4 separate regions of the Homo sapiens genome follow, and regions 2, 3 and 4 are each reported to be linked to region 1. Evidence: microRNA targets listed by miRTarBase, many of them from high-throughput screens and not tested one by one. Region 1 holds a microRNA gene; each other region holds the end of a gene's coding sequence.
Evidence for each region. The annotated mature microRNA hsa-miR-4695-3p reads UGAUCUCACCGCUGCCUCCUUC and lies in region 1 at 2,078-2,099, opposite strand. An mRNA with a match to its seed (bases 2 to 7 or 8) in the 3' UTR can be bound and repressed. Matches are read on the target gene's strand: a 7mer-m8 pairs with bases 2 to 8, a 7mer-A1 pairs with bases 2 to 7 and ends in A, and an 8mer does both.

Region 2: miRTarBase lists MIEF1 as a target of hsa-miR-4695-3p. Seed matches in the 3' UTR shown: 7mer-m8 at 1,295-1,301.
Region 3: the mRNA of AK3 is a reported target of hsa-miR-4695-3p. Seed matches in the 3' UTR shown: 7mer-m8 at 680-686.
Region 4: miRTarBase lists CDKN3 as a target of hsa-miR-4695-3p. The part of its 3' UTR that is shown has no 7-base or 8-base seed match.

What each region holds. Positions count from the first base shown.
Region 1 is chr1:18,881,127-18,885,278 of GRCh38, forward strand. MIR4695 (microRNA 4695) reads right to left here and starts at 2,149; the gene lies at 2,076-2,149. ALDH4A1 (aldehyde dehydrogenase 4 family member A1) reads right to left here. Exons shown (of 15, transcript NM_003748.4): 6 at 2,153-2,302; 7 at 1,998-2,072; 8 at 574-761. RefSeq lists a silencer at 3,003-3,234.
Region 2 is chr22:39,513,952-39,517,951 of GRCh38, reverse strand. It overlaps MIEF1 (mitochondrial elongation factor 1), which reads right to left. Exons shown (of 6, transcript NM_019008.6): 6 at 1-4,000. The coding sequence ends at 3,629. Among named protein-coding and RNA genes, the nearest start is that of ATF4, 4.6 kb to the left of the region's middle.
Region 3 is chr9:4,709,592-4,713,591 of GRCh38, forward strand. It overlaps AK3 (adenylate kinase 3), which reads right to left. Exons shown (of 5, transcript NM_016282.4): 5 at 1-3,505. The coding sequence ends at 3,385. Among named protein-coding and RNA genes, the nearest start is that of AK3, 30 kb to the right of the region's middle.
Region 4 is chr14:54,419,684-54,423,683 of GRCh38, forward strand. It overlaps CDKN3 (cyclin dependent kinase inhibitor 3), which reads left to right. Exons shown (of 8, transcript NM_005192.4): 8 at 309-535. The coding sequence ends at 395. It overlaps CNIH1 (cornichon family member 1), which reads right to left. Exons shown (of 5, transcript NM_005776.3): 5 at 3,878-4,000. Among named protein-coding and RNA genes, the nearest start is that of CNIH1, 20 kb to the right of the region's middle.

The DNA.
Region 1 (4,152 bases):
CAACTCAAACCATGCCCTGCCCTCACTCTCTTGCCCTGTCGCCCCCAAACTCCACACTCCAGCCACACAGGATCCTGCCATGCCCCAGAGCACAAGTTTTTGGCTTGGCAACATTGTATGTGCTATTCCCTCTCCCAACATATATATTCTTCTCCTGCCTCTTCCCCTCTGCCTGGCCAACTCCTCTGCTTAGATGTCACCTCCTCCAGGAAGGCTTCCTGACTCCTCCAGTTCATTCTGTGCTCCCCTGTGCCCTTTCCAGTAGCAGAGGTAGCACTGAAATCAATATTACCCACAGCTGTAGGGTGCACTTCCAGTCTGCGAAGCTCTTTCCTGTTCATTAACATGTTTAATCCTTGCAATGACTCTGCAAATTAAGGATAATCACTCCCTGTACAGGTGAAGAAATGGAAGCTCAGAGAGGTGAAGTGGCTCACTCATAGCCACACAGCAAGTAAGGGAGTAGAGTCCGTGCATGACCCCTGGGTTCACAGCCCCATCCCCAGGCAGACAGCAGGTGAGCAGGTGAACGTCCCCTAGCCACCACAGCCTACACCATCCCCAGGGACTTACGGCACACTGCCTGTGAAGTTGATGCCACAGAGGTGCTCTGAGCTGGTGACAGTGTCCCCAAATAGGGGCCCATCAGCTGGCACAAACTGGATGATGTTGGGGGGCAGGCCAGCCTCCCGAAGGATGCGGTAGACAGCATAGCTGGCCAGCATGGCAGTGTCACTGGGCTTCCATAGGACCACGTTGCCCTGCCCGGGAGGTGTTTCAGTGATGCATGAGGATGGCGCCACCAGCCCCCAACCCCCACCCCACCCTACCCTACAGCATGGTTGTCCCTCACCTGGAACCACCAGACTCTGTGCCAACCAGGACATCCCCTACCCGACCCCACTCCTCCAAGGCGTCTGGCCCTATCTCCAAAAGTCCCTGCCAAGGAGGCCACGGCACAGCCCAATCTGCCCCACGCTCTGGCCAAGGCTCCCTTTCCCCAGAAGCCTGCACCAACCGGTCCTGCCATCACCTAGGCAGGTCTGTTCTTACTGCTAGAGTCACTGAGTGCTCACCGGGCGCGGCGGGGCAAGTACACACGGGCTCTCTCAGCACATGTCCTGGGTCAGGCATGTGCAGCAGCCAGGCACGTGGGCGCCTGGCCATGCACCGTGTTTGTCTGTGCACAGATGCATGAGGACGTCCCCATCCATGTCCCTAGTACACACTCCGGCATCAGCATCCAGTGCCCCTGTCTGGGGCTCGGGGTTCCCGACAACTATGTGGACCTCTCCCACCCAGGCTGTCTGGGAGCTGGGCTGCACCTCCCCCACAGGCCTGGGACTTCATCCAGTAATAGCCAACCTCACTCCGATAATGGCAGAGGAGTGACTTGAATACCATCAACCCCGAGAGAGACTACATCCAAATCTTTCTCTGCTCCATCATTTATTTACTAGTCACTCAGTCTTGCCAAGTAAGTCACGGCTGTGTGTCTCAGTTTTGTCATCTGGCAAAGAGGCAGAGTCACAACTCCCTCTCGAAGCTGCTGAGAGGATGAAATGAGATCATCTCCATGCCGTGCTTGACAGCAGCAGGCACGTGGTGAGCACTGAAGGTCAGCGGTAATGATCATCAACAGAGCCACCAACACTCAGCCAGCTCCGGGCCAGCCCTGCCTGCTGCTGGATGTGTCTCATTTGAGCCTCACAACCCAGTCATGGAGGCTTTCCTATTATTTCCACTTTGCAGATGAGGAAACTGTGCCTCAGAGAAGTTCAGGGATTGCCAGGGTCTCCCAGGCAGAGAGGCACGACGCTGGGATTCAAACTGGGTCTCTGGTCCCAAAGCCTACCCACAGCCCCAAGCTGCCTCCACCTTCTGTGCCTCTCCCCATGACTAGGCTGAGACCCAAGGGGCTCAGGGTGGCCTCTGTCTGTCTGTTGGGACCAGGAGGACAACCAGCTGCCGCTGTCCCACCTGTGCCCACATCTCACCATCAGGGCCGGTGCCCCCGCCAGGTTGCCGCCGATTGCAGTGAAGTTAAAGGGCGAGATGGCCGCCACGAAGCCCTGGGGAAGGAGGCAGCGGTGAGATCAGGCCCATGGCATTGGGCTGCCCCGCCTGCTCGCCCACTGCCTCCTGCAGGTACCTCCAGACCCCGGTACACCGTGCTGTTGGTGCTCGGGGGCACGCTGATGGGCTGCTGCCCCTCCAGCTCCACCGCATACTTGGCATTGAACCGGAAGAAGTCGATGAGTTCCGCTGCAGCGTCAATCTCCGCTTGGATCACGGTCTTACCCTGCAAGGCAGAGGGCCGGGGGTCAGGAGCAGCCAACAGCCTCCTGTCCATCCTCTTCTCACATCTGACGCTGTGCCCAAAGCGAGCACTGAGCCGGGCCCCAGGAGGGACCAGGAAACATTTGGAGGGCTCACCAGGTCCCATCCCAGGGGCTGAGGGGGAAAGGATTCTCAAGCCCCTGAGCTAGCACCTCCTGTAGCCGGCCCTCTGGGCTGGACGGGGATCAGAAGAATTTTAGTGATCCTCTGTAGCAGGCCAGGTACTTGCCATGCACTGTCTTCATTTCATAGCAACTCTGAATGGTGGTGCATGGCAAAGGATCTATGGTCAAGCCTCAGACTAAATTCAGGATCAGAGCCTTCCAGACAGAAGGGCAGATTAGCATGAGCTGGAGATTGGTCACTGGAAAACCAGGAGAGAGACTCGGTGTGTGGGAGGTGGATGGCTCCTTCCCCAGGAATGATGTTCGGCCTTGCTGGTTAGTTTGGGCCAAAAACCAAGAGGCGAGTGACTGTGATTCCCTTAAACCGTCAATTCTTAATAACAGCAAATGTGAGCTGCAGGGAAAAGAACTGTGGACAGCCAAGAACGGGGCTTTTCCAGATTGACGTGGCCTCCTCTTGGCACCCAAGGTCACTGGCAGGTGCACGACCTATTAGAGACACACAGCCCATGAAGCTGAGCTAAGATGTGTACCTTGCTTCCTAGAAGTTCCTGAGTCTTAGGCCAAATACAGAGAAAGCCTAAACTGATCCTAGACTGTCTTCCCAGCAACGTGCGGCTCACCAGGAACACGCAGAGCTGACGCCCACCCCAGAGGGCTGCTGAGCCAATCTAAGAAGGCATTTAGCAGGCTGAGGGGCTGTCATACCAGCTCTGTGCAGCAGAGGGGGCGCTCACCATGGGGACCGAGGAGCAGGCAGTGGCAAATGCCTGATCCAGAAAGCAGCCTGGGTTCTGGCTCCTGCAATTTACCCTTCAGGAACCCAGGTTAGTTGGCAGCGTAGGGCTCAGGTCCTGGAGGTGGTGAAATAACCCTTTCTCCCTCGACTCCTGTCCCCCGCACACTCTGCCTGCTAGAGCCACTCCTCACTCAACTTGCATTTAGCAGGGTGAGGAGCTGTCATGCCAGCTCTGTGCAGAGAAAACCATTGATCAGGGGCTTGCTATGCCTCCTGAAAGGTATCATGCAAAGCCCAGAAAAAGACCGAGAATGTCAAGACATGTTTACTATGTCCAAAAAGCTTGTAAAGGGGCAGTACCTAGGAACTCAATACACTCCAGTGCAATCTGAGCTGTAACTGATGCAGGAACAACATGCTCTGGGGAAACAGAGGCAGGAATAGTCCTTTCGGCTGGAGAAGGCTCAGGAAGTCTCACGGAGGGGGTGACATCTGGGCTGGACCAGGAGGTAAGAGTTCACTGAGCACGGAAGAGACAGCAGGCATTCCAGGCAGGAGGACACGTGGGCAGAGGCAGAGAGGATGCCTGCCATGGCCGGGGAGTCCTGCTAAGTGCCAAATGGCTACACTATGGGCAGGACAGCTTGGCAGGGAAATGCAGAGCAGTGGGCGAGCTGGACAGAGGTGGGCAGAAGGGCCCTGGGTATGGGGCTCAGGTCTTGGGACTTGCCTCTCAGTGGTGGAGAGGTCTGGGTGGGTCATAAGCCAGGAGTAACATCCTGGAGGTGTTGGAAAGACCACTCTGAGGGCGGCGAGGGGCTGACCAAGCTAGGAGGCAGGGAGACAGTGCAGGCCACCACCAGTCCAGGCAAAGCATGACAAAGGCCTAGGAGCGAGGACAGAGGGATGGAGGAGAGGGGACATTTCCGAGGCAGGACACATGGGCTC
Region 2 (4,000 bases), not on the chromosome of region 1:
TCTACCAGCTAACACATCCACCACCACTGCGGGCAGGCAAGTGACTAGAAGGCAAGTTGTGGACTTGGCCTCAGGGACCAAGAATTTAAAGACTACAAGGTGATCCAAATGTAAAGGTAAACACCTACTGTGCATTTGACCATGGAACCCACCTCTCTGGTATTCTGGCCACTTACAGTAAGTGGCATCTAAAAGGGCTGCAGCCTCCCAGCCTGGTGCAAGGGTCAGCTCTGTCCTAAGTCTCCTATCATTCTCCTTGGCCTTGAGTTTCAGACAAAAGGGCAGAGTTCTAACAAATCCTCTGACAGAACACGTTCTCAGCCAAGTCAGTCCCAAGGAAGTATCATGGCAGAGAGCTCTGGACACTCGCAGTAGTCTGTATTTACAGAACCCTCCCACCTCGGGGCCTCTCCTGGGTCCTTCCATCCTGAAGCTGATTCCCCTTCAAGACTATTTGAACTCTCAACTTGAGTGGAGTGCAGGGAGCACAGTCAGCAAATGTGGAATATGGACAGGTGGCCGGGACCCAGGAGACCGTGGGCCTCTGCAACGCTTCTTTAAACTTGAGCTTCAACATTTATTTAAATAAAACTTTAAAAGTCATAACCAAGCATGTAAAGAAAAATACTGTCATCTTCAGCTCATTTTTTAGGAAGGGCAACAGAGGAGAACCAAAATAAACTCTGGAATTTATTAGGTTTAAGATAATGAGTGCATTTTTTAAGTGTTAGGCTACGTATAAAGTTTGCTAACCTTGATGGCACACACACAAAAATCTCTAGATGGAGAAGTAGAAGATGCTGTTACTTCAGGCAAAAGTAAGAGTTACTGAACAGGAAGGCAGAGTAGTGGGGAAAGTTACTCATCTTTCCCCAAAGATTTAAAAAAGGGGGCAGGTGCAGAATGTTGTCCTCTTCTATCCAAGAATCTCAAAGCAATTGCCTATGTTCCACACTTTATGATGAGGAAGATGGCAGCAAAAAGAACGGCTTGCCCAGTCATGGTCAGCAAACCCACCAGGACCAGCGCTGAGAGTTCACATTGCTTCTGGTTCTGAGGACTTCTTAAGAGGTTCTTCCTTGTAAAATGACAAAGTTATGGTTTTGTCCAACAGTTAAAAGAGATGCTCTTTAAGAAGGATGATAAACTCATTTGCCTTCCTTAAATGACAATTACACTCAACTTAAATAACTTGGGACTCTTTAAAATCTTATCTTTTTTAAGCTCTTCTTCCAATTTTTATTTTTTTGAAATAGGGTCTCACTCTGTCACCCAGGCTGGAGTGCAGTGGCACGATCTCAGCTCACTGTAACCTCCGCCTCCCGGGTTTAAGTTATTCTCCTGCCTCAGCCTCCCGAGTAGCTGGGATTATAGGCGCCTGCCACCACGCCCAGCTTATTTTTATCTTTTTCGTGGAGACGGGGTTTCACCATGTTGGCCAGGCTGGTCTCGAACTCCTGACCTCAAGTGATCCACCCGCCTTAGCTTCCCAGTGCTGGGATTACAAGCATGAGCCACCGCACCCAGCCTCCTTCCAATGTTTTATGTGAAATTTGGTCAGAGATGCAAGCTTGGGAAAACTTAAATTTTTTTAATACTCATGGCAGGGAAACCAAATCCTTTATCTCAATGAATAATCTATACTTTTGCAACACTCTATCAATCCTCTCCTCTCCCTTACCTCTAACGGATACCCAGTGGGTACACAGGAACCCTGTCAAGCTCTACCCCATACCTTCTAGATTCATCCAGGATGGTACTCAGGCATACAGATTTTTTTTTTTTTTTTTAACTCTCATTTGAGTCTGACCAACAGACAGGGTAGATGAGCTCTCTCAAGATTCTCAGCTTTATGTTTTTTGTTCCCTCTCAATACCTTTATGCAAATGAAACTGAAACCACCATAAGAAATCCTTGTTAAGGGGAAAAGAGGCAAAAAGACCTCTAAATATAGTCAAGGTTAACCCTAGTTCTCAATTTCCTAATCTGTGACAAAAGAGGGGCAGGAATCTCTACCCTAAATTGATGTTGAGGTATCGATGCTAAAGAGTCATTTCCTGTTACTATCGTTGGGAAGGAATGAGACAGCTGCAGAGAGCTTCACCAGAACCTCAATGATGGAGAGGTAGTCATTGAAAAAATAAGACAACTTGACGGAAGGAAAACAAAATACTGAATGGGCAGATGAGAAACAGAATTATCATCAGAGTCTTGCTACAAACAGGGAAAAACACAAACCAAGATGACACACGGACATGGTAGATTAAACATTCCTCCCCACCTTCAGGATACATTTACATTGCAATAAATACTGCAATCTCAGCAGCGGCAAACAAGGAGGAATGTAGGAAATGCCCACCTCCTCCCCTCTGTCTTATCTGTGTGCTCTCTTCCTTGGTAGCACCGATCTCCCCAGGTGCTGGGTGAGAAACAGGACAGGGGGAAGAGGTCCGTGCATGCTCACTTGCCCTCTGGCCGTGCCCGGAGCGCTCAGCAAACACCCCTCTCACATTCCTATGGCAGACGCTGGAGGATGAAGGGCTGGCTGTTGGGTCTGTTCTTGCTCTAAGGCCACATCCTAGAAAAGCAGGGCCTGTCTGGGTAGAAAACATGGCCACCAAACCCCAACTAGTGACTGGATTTTCCAGCTGACATTCAGTCGACTGTCTACCTCCATCATCCTCACCTGATGTCTAAGGCTGCGTTCCTTCAAGGCCTTGTCCTGATTGGCAATAAAATAAGGAAAAGGTGTGAAAACCAGCATTCATGATGAAGTGGTGCCCTGGCAGTCCCCATCCTTGTCTGTCTGACCCCTGCAGCCACAGATGACGAGCAGACACTGGGCACACAAACCCTTCACTAGGCCCTTAACCAGCTCTGGTTCCCTACTCTGCACTTCTGCTAATAGCCACCAAGAAATTCAACCTGCAAATAACTTTGCATTCAGCTTATCCTGTGTGGGTCATTAACAGTGTTCCCATGAGAGACATTCTCAGCATTTATGAATGGGTCAGGAGGTTGGGGGGAGGATGGACTTCTACTCCAGGAACCGTGGTCAAAGGCCAACTCTTCTACCAGCCTCACTCCCAGAAACCCTAAATACTGTCTCAGCACTCGCTCTGTAGAGTTCAGCTTTGAAACATGCTATCACAGCTCTTCAGTGGCATTCAACTAAAAGGCAACATCTTAATTAGGCAGATATGCTCCAGGGACAAGAGCAAAACAGAAGGCATGAACGAGAGAGGAAAAAATAGAAAAGACACTGAATAGGAACAGGCAAACGGGCAAGGCAGACCAGATAGAGGCAGCAAACATGGGCCAAAACGCAAAACACCAAGTGGTCCATCAGCTCAGGCCAGCACGCCACCTTCTCAATTCATTCCAGAAAAATTAGCCTGGAGCCAGGGGGCGGCAGAGAGCACAGTGATTGGTAACAAAAATAGGAAGAGTTGGGTAACAAAATAGGAGACGAAAGAGATGTCATTCTAATCAGCATGAAGTGACCAGGGTGATGATCAGCAAGACACCAGGCAGCAGGAACCCTGTGAGGCACCAACTAGGTAGCCAAGTGTATCTAACGGAGAATCCAGGGCCTGACCACCAACACCCGCTTTGGCCTTCACCTGCCCTACGTCTGCAGCAGCACCTCTGGCTCAGACAATGAGCAATACAGAGTGTATCCTAATTCGTCTATTTCTTCAGGGGTGAGCTCTGCAAATAAGTTCACCTTGGGGTTTAGGGCACTGGGCAGGACTCCAGCCTCTAAGTAGCTGATAAGTCCCCTCAAGGCCTGCAGGAAACGGTCGGCCAGCATATCCGGAGACCAGTCAGCCTCCTCCTGGGCCAAGTGGAGGATGACATTGGTTAGCTGGCTGGCAGTGAGGTGGCCCAGAGCCGGGGTGGACTTGCATATGGCCTTGAGGATCTTGAGGCACAGAGATCGGCAGCCCGAGTCAGCCTGGTCCAGAGCCCGCAGGCGTGCCGTCTCCGCGGGACGCAG
Region 3 (4,000 bases), not on the chromosome of region 1:
TATGGAAAAATCAGTGTTTATATTATTTAGTGAGCTAAAAACAAATAAAAAGCAGGAGGGGGATAAGGGCTCTACAAAGCATACTGGCTTTTACCAGAAGCTTTAAGCACAGCTACACTATTTTAACTGTTTAAAAATTTTTTAACCATAACTTCCAAGATGAAAATCTTTAACTGCAAAGATAGAAAAGCTATTTCTACAGTTTATCAGGGCCTGAGGATTTATTTTTATTTTTATTTTTATTTTTTGGTCAATGAGAAGACACAACATATTCTAAAATACAAATTCTTGCTGTTGGTTGCAACTATAGCAATTTAACATAATTTGAGATCTATAATTACAATGATTTGTTGTTAGTATAGGGCAGTTTTGTCACAAGTTATGAGGATCCAAAATATCTTGCTAGAATGCCATTATATATAGCTGGGGGAAAAGTAGCCATAGGGTGGGGTTTAGAGATTTGAGCCAGTATTTAAACTATTTGAAATGGAACTGACAGAAATTTCTGGATGGTGCTAACAACTGCTAGTTTGCATTTCCCACAGTACACGCTGCTTACAAAAGGTATAGCAAAATAACTTTTACTCTATAAAATAAATCAGTTGAGGTGCTGTTCTCCCTGGCTTTTTTTTTTGAGACGGAGTCTCCCTCTGTCGCCCAGGCTGGAGTGCAGTGGCACGATCTCAGCTCACTGCAACCTCCGCCTCCCGGATTCACACCATTCTCCTGCCTCAACCTCCCGAGTAGCTGGGACTACAGGCGCCCGCCACCATGCCCGGCTAATTTTTTTTTTTTTTTTTTGTATTTTTAGTAGAGACGGGGTTTCACCGTGTTAGCCAGGATGGTCTCGATCTCCTGACCTCGTGATCCGCCCGCCTCGGCCTCCCAAAGTGCTGGGATTACAGGCGTGAGCCACCGCGCCCGGCCTCTCATTGGCTTTTAACAAAAGTATAGTAGTTTCTCCTAGCCATGGCATTCAGCTCCATACATGTATTTCCATGTGGTACATAAATCTTAATGATGGTCATTACAGAATTATTTTTTTGGGTGGGGGCAGTGGCTTACACCTGTAATCTCAGCACTTGGGAAGCTGAATCAGGAAGACTGTTTGAGGCCAGGAGACTAGCCTGGGCAACATATCGAGACGCCGTCTCTACAAAAAAATAAAATTAGCCAGGCATGGTGGTACATACCTGTAGTTTCAGCTACTTGGGAGGCTGAGGTAGAAGAATTGCGTGAGCCCAGGAGTTCAACGTTACAGTGACCCAATTATGCCACTGCACTCTAGTCTGGGCAACAGAGTGAGGCCCTGTCTAAAAAAAAATAAAGAAAAAAGTTGTATTACAGTCATATTCATTCCTAAAGTAATGAATGTATGTGCAAAACTTTGGGCTAAGTGTTTGCGGGTGGGGAGGGAATGGTCACAGGAAATAAGAGTCTTAATTCTCATAGCCATGTTCTTCCACTGCTCACTTTGATTTCCAAATCCCCTAAGGGTATTATGAAGGCCGGTATGGCTACCATAGCAGGAGATGAAGTATTGCATAAACTGAAACCAGCCTATGGACTGTTTTAAGATCATTTATTAGAACAGTCATTCAGAAGCCATTGAGACATCAGGCAGCAGAAAGGAAGGTGGGATGGAGCAGGCCCTGTGAAGGACCAAGAACAAAGTAATAGCCACAGTTATGAAATTTCATTTTATTCTGATAAAGACTAATATATGCTTGATAACCTAGTGATAATCCATAAGTTTGGTATTTCACAACATTTTTTAGAAAGCACATAAGATTAACATTCAAATAAGGCATTATAGAAAGTTTTATAAAGAATGAAGTGTTTCCTATATTTCTTTTAAAAAACCTTGGTTCATCTTGAAAGATCGATGAATTTTTTAAATATCAGAAGAAAAGGGAAATAAAATTTTCCCCCCAAAACACATAAGAACCACTTACTGGCACTTGTATTTTAAGTACCTGGGAAAAAAACGGAACAGATTTTTAAAGGCAATAACGACTTGTAAGACGGCTTGTTTCATTTGATTTGGCACGAAGTAAAGTAAGAGTAAATATGCCATGGAAGACATAATCAAGTTTTTCCTCCATCTCTCATATTTCCCCACTTCTACCAGACCACACAGTACATCAGCAACCATCCTTTAGATTCCAATTTTTAAATGGCTGCTCAGACGACACCAATAGAGTTCTTTCTCCTTAAAATATGGTGGCAGTGAATGCTAACAGGTATCAATTTCTTTGATCAGGAACAAAGAACTCCTTCAGGAAACTCACTTTCCTGGTCCTTGTTAACCTATCATGTAAATTCTTTTTATTGGTACACCTGTTTACTAATTATGATTGATTGCTATTTATGCCAAGGGAGCATTTCCCAGGCATGCCTCATCTATTTACTAACAACAAAGTATGCTTACTTTATTTACATAGTGCCACGGGTTTCTCTTTTTTCTTCTCTTTTTTATTGGCGGGGGAGATGGTACTATAACTTGTTATTTATCAGGGCAGATCACACATTTGGATCAAAAAGAAAAACCAGCAAGTAGATCCTAAAACACATTTCTTAACCTGAGTCATAACTGAAAACATAGACTTTAATTACATTTTGTTGAAAATTCATTCAACTTTGGTGCTTGTAAAAGCACTTATGTCAATTTTTGACACAAATCATAACCCTCAGTACACAGGTATTTTCAAAGGAAACAAGTCATCTTAAAGTAATATTTTTCTATATGCTAATTGATACATCTTTATAGCAAATTGAAAATTCTGAGTAAACTGAAAGTATGCTTAACGACAAAATAAATACAGCATATATGGTTAACATATACATTTCTTAGTGTAAAGGCAGCAGTGAATTTGTGTCTCACAATAAATCTGTAAATCCAGTTGCTTTCTTTCTGGAATTTTATATAGTGTCTCACCATGTTCCACAATGCTGGAAATGTCTTTTTTGGCATCAATCTATGCACAAATTTCTGATTACGTATTTTCTCCAAATGACATGTAACTTTTTTTAACTTTTCCAGAAAAATATGGAAACTTTATCAACCACTTATTAACTGAACAAAAAGTTAGATTACTACCAAATGCTCTTTTAATTTTGCTCTAACAGATGTTTTAAAGGTTCAGACATCGCTGATGTTTTTGAGGATAACTGCATACAACACACTAGATGATTTCAAACGATGCATCTTAGTATCCGAATCATTTGGCACATCCTTAGTATCCAAAATAAAATCAGTAGAAATAAAAGTAATATAATTTTCAAAGAATTCATACATACTAGAAGTCTTAGGAAAAGCAGCTTCTAAATGCAAGGACTAGGAGGTTTGCCCATCTTACTATTAATAGTTACACACATTTCTCCTCATGGAGTAACTGAAGCTTTCTGGCTTCTTTGTGGAACTTTAGTTTGTAGGAAAGCATATACATAGGGCCAAATCTTGTTGGTTTCTGTTCCGGAGAATGTTTCCAGCACCCCTTTTTTCCTAAAGATGAAACAAAAACAAAACAAACACACACAGGTCTGAGTCTTCCTAATAAGCTCTTTCAAAGCCTTTCTGTAAATAATGATATTGTAGATATAGGAGTCTTGGTAAGTATAGATTTGTGTAATCAGGAGAGAAAGGCACTTGGCTGGGCATTGGAAAATGTACATTTTGGTTTCAGTTGTGCTCTCTGGCTTACAAAAATGGGTGCTTAAAAAAATAACAGCACCTATCATTTATTTTATTTATTGAACATGCACTGTGTGTCAAAGGCTGTGCTACATGCTTTACATATTATAGTTTGTTTAATCCTTTCCAAAGCTCAAATTTTCTTATTTTACTAATAAAATCATCCCTTTGTAATGTAACTTAGCCCAAATCACCAAGTTGGTAGTACATTTCCAAACAGGACCTATAAGATACCAGAACACCCATCAGCCTTTTTTTTCTACTTACTCTTTTGCAAAAGCTACTTTCTAATACTTGAGTATCTTT
Region 4 (4,000 bases), not on the chromosome of region 1:
ATTATGTACTGTTTTAATCTTATTTGGTCCTGTAAGTAAAGAGAGAAAGAATTTTAGACTTAAAACATATCCATCTACATTTCATTTCACCTTCTGATTTTTAGAGACTTGTAGAACAATAGTTTTTCACACTATATGGCTTTACTAAAAGATAAAACTTCCCCATGATGCAAATGCTTCCTTACCCAAAAAGATGTAGAATTGTGCTTAGCAAGTATTTTTTTTTATTCCTGATACCTGCTAATATTGTGCCCACACTGATAACTAGTTTTCTACAGTGTATTCCAATGTATCTTTACTTTTTTCAGCAATACAATTATCTTCATGAGTTTCGGGACAAATTAGCTGCACATCTATCATCAAGAGATTCACAATCAAGATCTGTATCAAGATAAAGGAATTCAAATAGCATATATATGACCATGTCTGAAATGTCAGTTCTCTAGCATAATTTGTATTGAAATGAAACCACCAGTGTTATCAACTTGAATGTAAATGTACATGTGCAGATATTCCTAAAGTTTTATTGACAAAACTCGTTGTGTCTCTTTCATTTCTTATAGGAATAGGAAAATTGGGATAGGAAAATTGGTATGCAATTTTCCTTTTAGAAATGAATTGGTTGTTCTGGTATATTCTACCTGGAGGTAATGCTGAAAACATGCATTTGGAAAAATATTTGAATGCCTATTTTTAATACTTAGTACTGCACTTTTACTTCATTTTACTGTTTGTAACCACTGGGTAGCATATGACAAAGTAGTAAGTATGAGAATTGGTATGAGTGCCCAAACTTACTTTTAAATGATGTCCCCCTCCCTCTCTATTCCTCCCAAAACTTCTTCCGCTTTTTACTTCATAGACCTCCGGAATTGAAAAGGATCCTGTGAGTCTTCCACTCGCCCCCTCCCAGTACTGGATCAGCCCCAAGGGTGTTTATTCACTATGGGCTGGAACATTTTCAGAGACAAGGAATTCACTGGTTCAGACAGCTGCTCCACCTTTTGTCCGCCCTAGGAACTACACGGAATGAGCTTAATCCTTTCACATTTATTTCATAAAGAATTTAGCTACAGATTAACAATTTCCAACTCTCTCACTCTTTCACTTCCCCCTATACTATGAAACCTATCTTTTTTCATCTTTAAATTCAACTTTGAGTTACCCAAAACAGTCATTTGGGCTGTAGACAAGGATCACACACAATGTGTCAAACAAACACACTTGTTTTAACAGTCAGTGGTTTCAGTAGGGCTTACAGTAGTCACATGGCTCTCTTGGCTACTGGTAATTACAAGTGTGAACCAATGGCAATTTGGCAATGACCACCAGGTTGCAGACTCATAGGCACTTCCACAAAAGACAAAGTTTCACTACATCAAAATTTCATTTTTAAATAATTATTCAATGACTGGCTGGGCGTCATGGCTCACGCCTGTAATCCCAGCACATTGGGAGACCAAGGTGAGCAAATCACTTTAGGTCAGGGGTTTGAGACCAGCCTGGCCAACATGACGAAACCCCATCTCTACTAAAAATACAAAAATTAGCCAGGCGTGGTGGTGCACGCCTGTAATCCCAGCTACTTGGGAGGCTGAAGTAGGAGAATCACTTGAACCCGGCGGGGCAGAGGTTGCAGTCAGCCGAACCCAGGGGACAGAGGTTGCAGTGAGCCGAGATCACACCACTGCACTCCAGCCTGGACGACAGAGAGACTCTGTCTCAAAAAAAAAAAAAATCATACAATGACTAAACATCTTATTTTGTCTCACACTACTCTTCTTGCTGCTGATTAACTGCTTGAATTTCATTACAAAATAATGCAAAACAATGACCAGCCTGTTTGGGAATTTCAGAGCACTAGTATGTATTGTAATATAAAATCAATATATTAATAGAGTCATCCCTTGTTATCCTCAGAGGATTGGTTACAGGACCCCCCACCCCACCCCCAACAGCAAAATAAATGGATGCTCAAGTCTCTGATATAAAATGGCATAGTATTTGTATACTTTAAATCATCTCTAGTTACTTATAATACCGAATACAATGTAAATGATGTGTAGTTATTATACTGTATTGGTTTTATTTGTAGTATTTATTTTTCAAATAGTTTTAATCTGAGGTTGAGTCAGCGGATTTAGAACCCATAGATACAGACGGCTGACTGTACTTTTATACATAACGCTGCTTCTAGAACTTAACATTTTATGAGGATACTAAGGAAGGTAGGAGGATCACATATCCCAGCAGTATCTAAATGGTTAACCTAGGGATTTCATTTTCTCATATAATTAATACCAAAAGTTATAGCAAGAAAAGTTTTTTTTTGTTGTTTTTTTTTTGAGATGGAGTCTCGCTCTGTCGCCCAGGCTGGAGTGCAGTGGCATGATCTCGGCTCACTGTAACCTCCGCCTCCTGGGTTCAAGCGATTCTCCTTCCTCTGTCTCCTGAGTACTGGGACTACAGGCGCGTACCACCATGCCTGGCTAATTTTTTGTATTTTTAGTAGAGGCAGGGTTTCACCGTGTTAGTCAGAATGGTCTCAATCTCCTGACGTCGTGATCTGCCCGCCTAGGCCTCCCAAAGTGCTGGGATTACAGGCGTGGGCACCCGTGCCCGGCCCAAGGAAGGCATGTTTTTTAAGTACACACTGTAATAACAGATTGGCCTTCTTCATGATTTTTGTATTATAACCATACACAATTTAAAAATCACAATTTCTATTAAACTTTAGACAGTCATTGATATTTACATTAGCCAATCTTTTACAGTCCCCAATCTACAATGGTTCAACTTGGGATTTCTCAACTTTACAATGCTATGAAAGAAATATGTATTCAGTAGAAACTATAGTTCAAGTATTCACACAACCATTCTGTTTTCACTTTCAGTACAGTACAATGTTTGAGATATTCAACACCTTATTATAAAATAGGCTTTGTGTTAGATTATTTTGCCCAACTGTAGGCTGATGTAAATGTTATGAGTACGTTTAAGGTTGGCTAAGCTATGATGCTTGGTAGGTTAGGTGCATTAAATGCATTTGCAACTTACATTTTCAACTTATGATGTCCGGAGATAATTCCATTGCAAGTTGAGAAGCATATATATTATCATTCTCTCAACATAAATACATAACTTATTCATGAATACTTAGAAAATTGAGAGAAAATATTGGCATGGATTAATCAAATACTTTAATAATCAACTGAATTTTGAAAGTACTTGCATCTCTCAATTCCCACGGCAAGTGCTATTTAAGCCTCTACATTTAAAAAGCTTCAGTAGGCCAGGCGCAGTGGCTCATGCCTGTAATCCCAGCACTTATGGGAGGCTAAGGCAGGCAAATCGCTTGATCTCAGGAGTTCGAGACCAGCCTAGGCAACATGATGAAACCCTGTCTCTACTAAAAATACAAAAATTAACCAGGTGTGGTGGTATGCATCTGTGGTCCCAGCTACTTGGGAGGCTAAGGTTGGAGGATCACTTGAGCCCAGGGAGGTAGAGGCTACAGTGAGCCATGATAACACCAATGCACTCCAGCCTGGAAGACAGTGAGACCCTGTCTCAAAAAAAAATTTAAAAATTTTTTAAAATGCTCGACTAAACCACTTTAATATTAAGTATACGGGAAAACATCAACTATTCTATAACAAAGAAACATGAGATGTCAGTTACTAAAATATAATTGTCCAGTTAAAGATTCCAGCATTCCAGGGAAAAGTATTTTCTCTACCTAACCTGTGTGATATTCCCCAAAACAATGAGGAAAGAGGGCGGAGAGAGAATCAGAGTCCTGGTCATTCACAAACTAGTGGCATTTGAAATTGAATTAACACACAGACTCAACCATTATGCATAAACTACACAAGGAAACATTTAAGACAGCTTTTATTAAATACAAAAGCAAAATAAGCTCTAAGGAGTAAGGTAGGGCTACTTAAGGGCGTTTTCTGTGGACAGCGGACACAGCACCATTAAGGTTAGCTTAGATTTG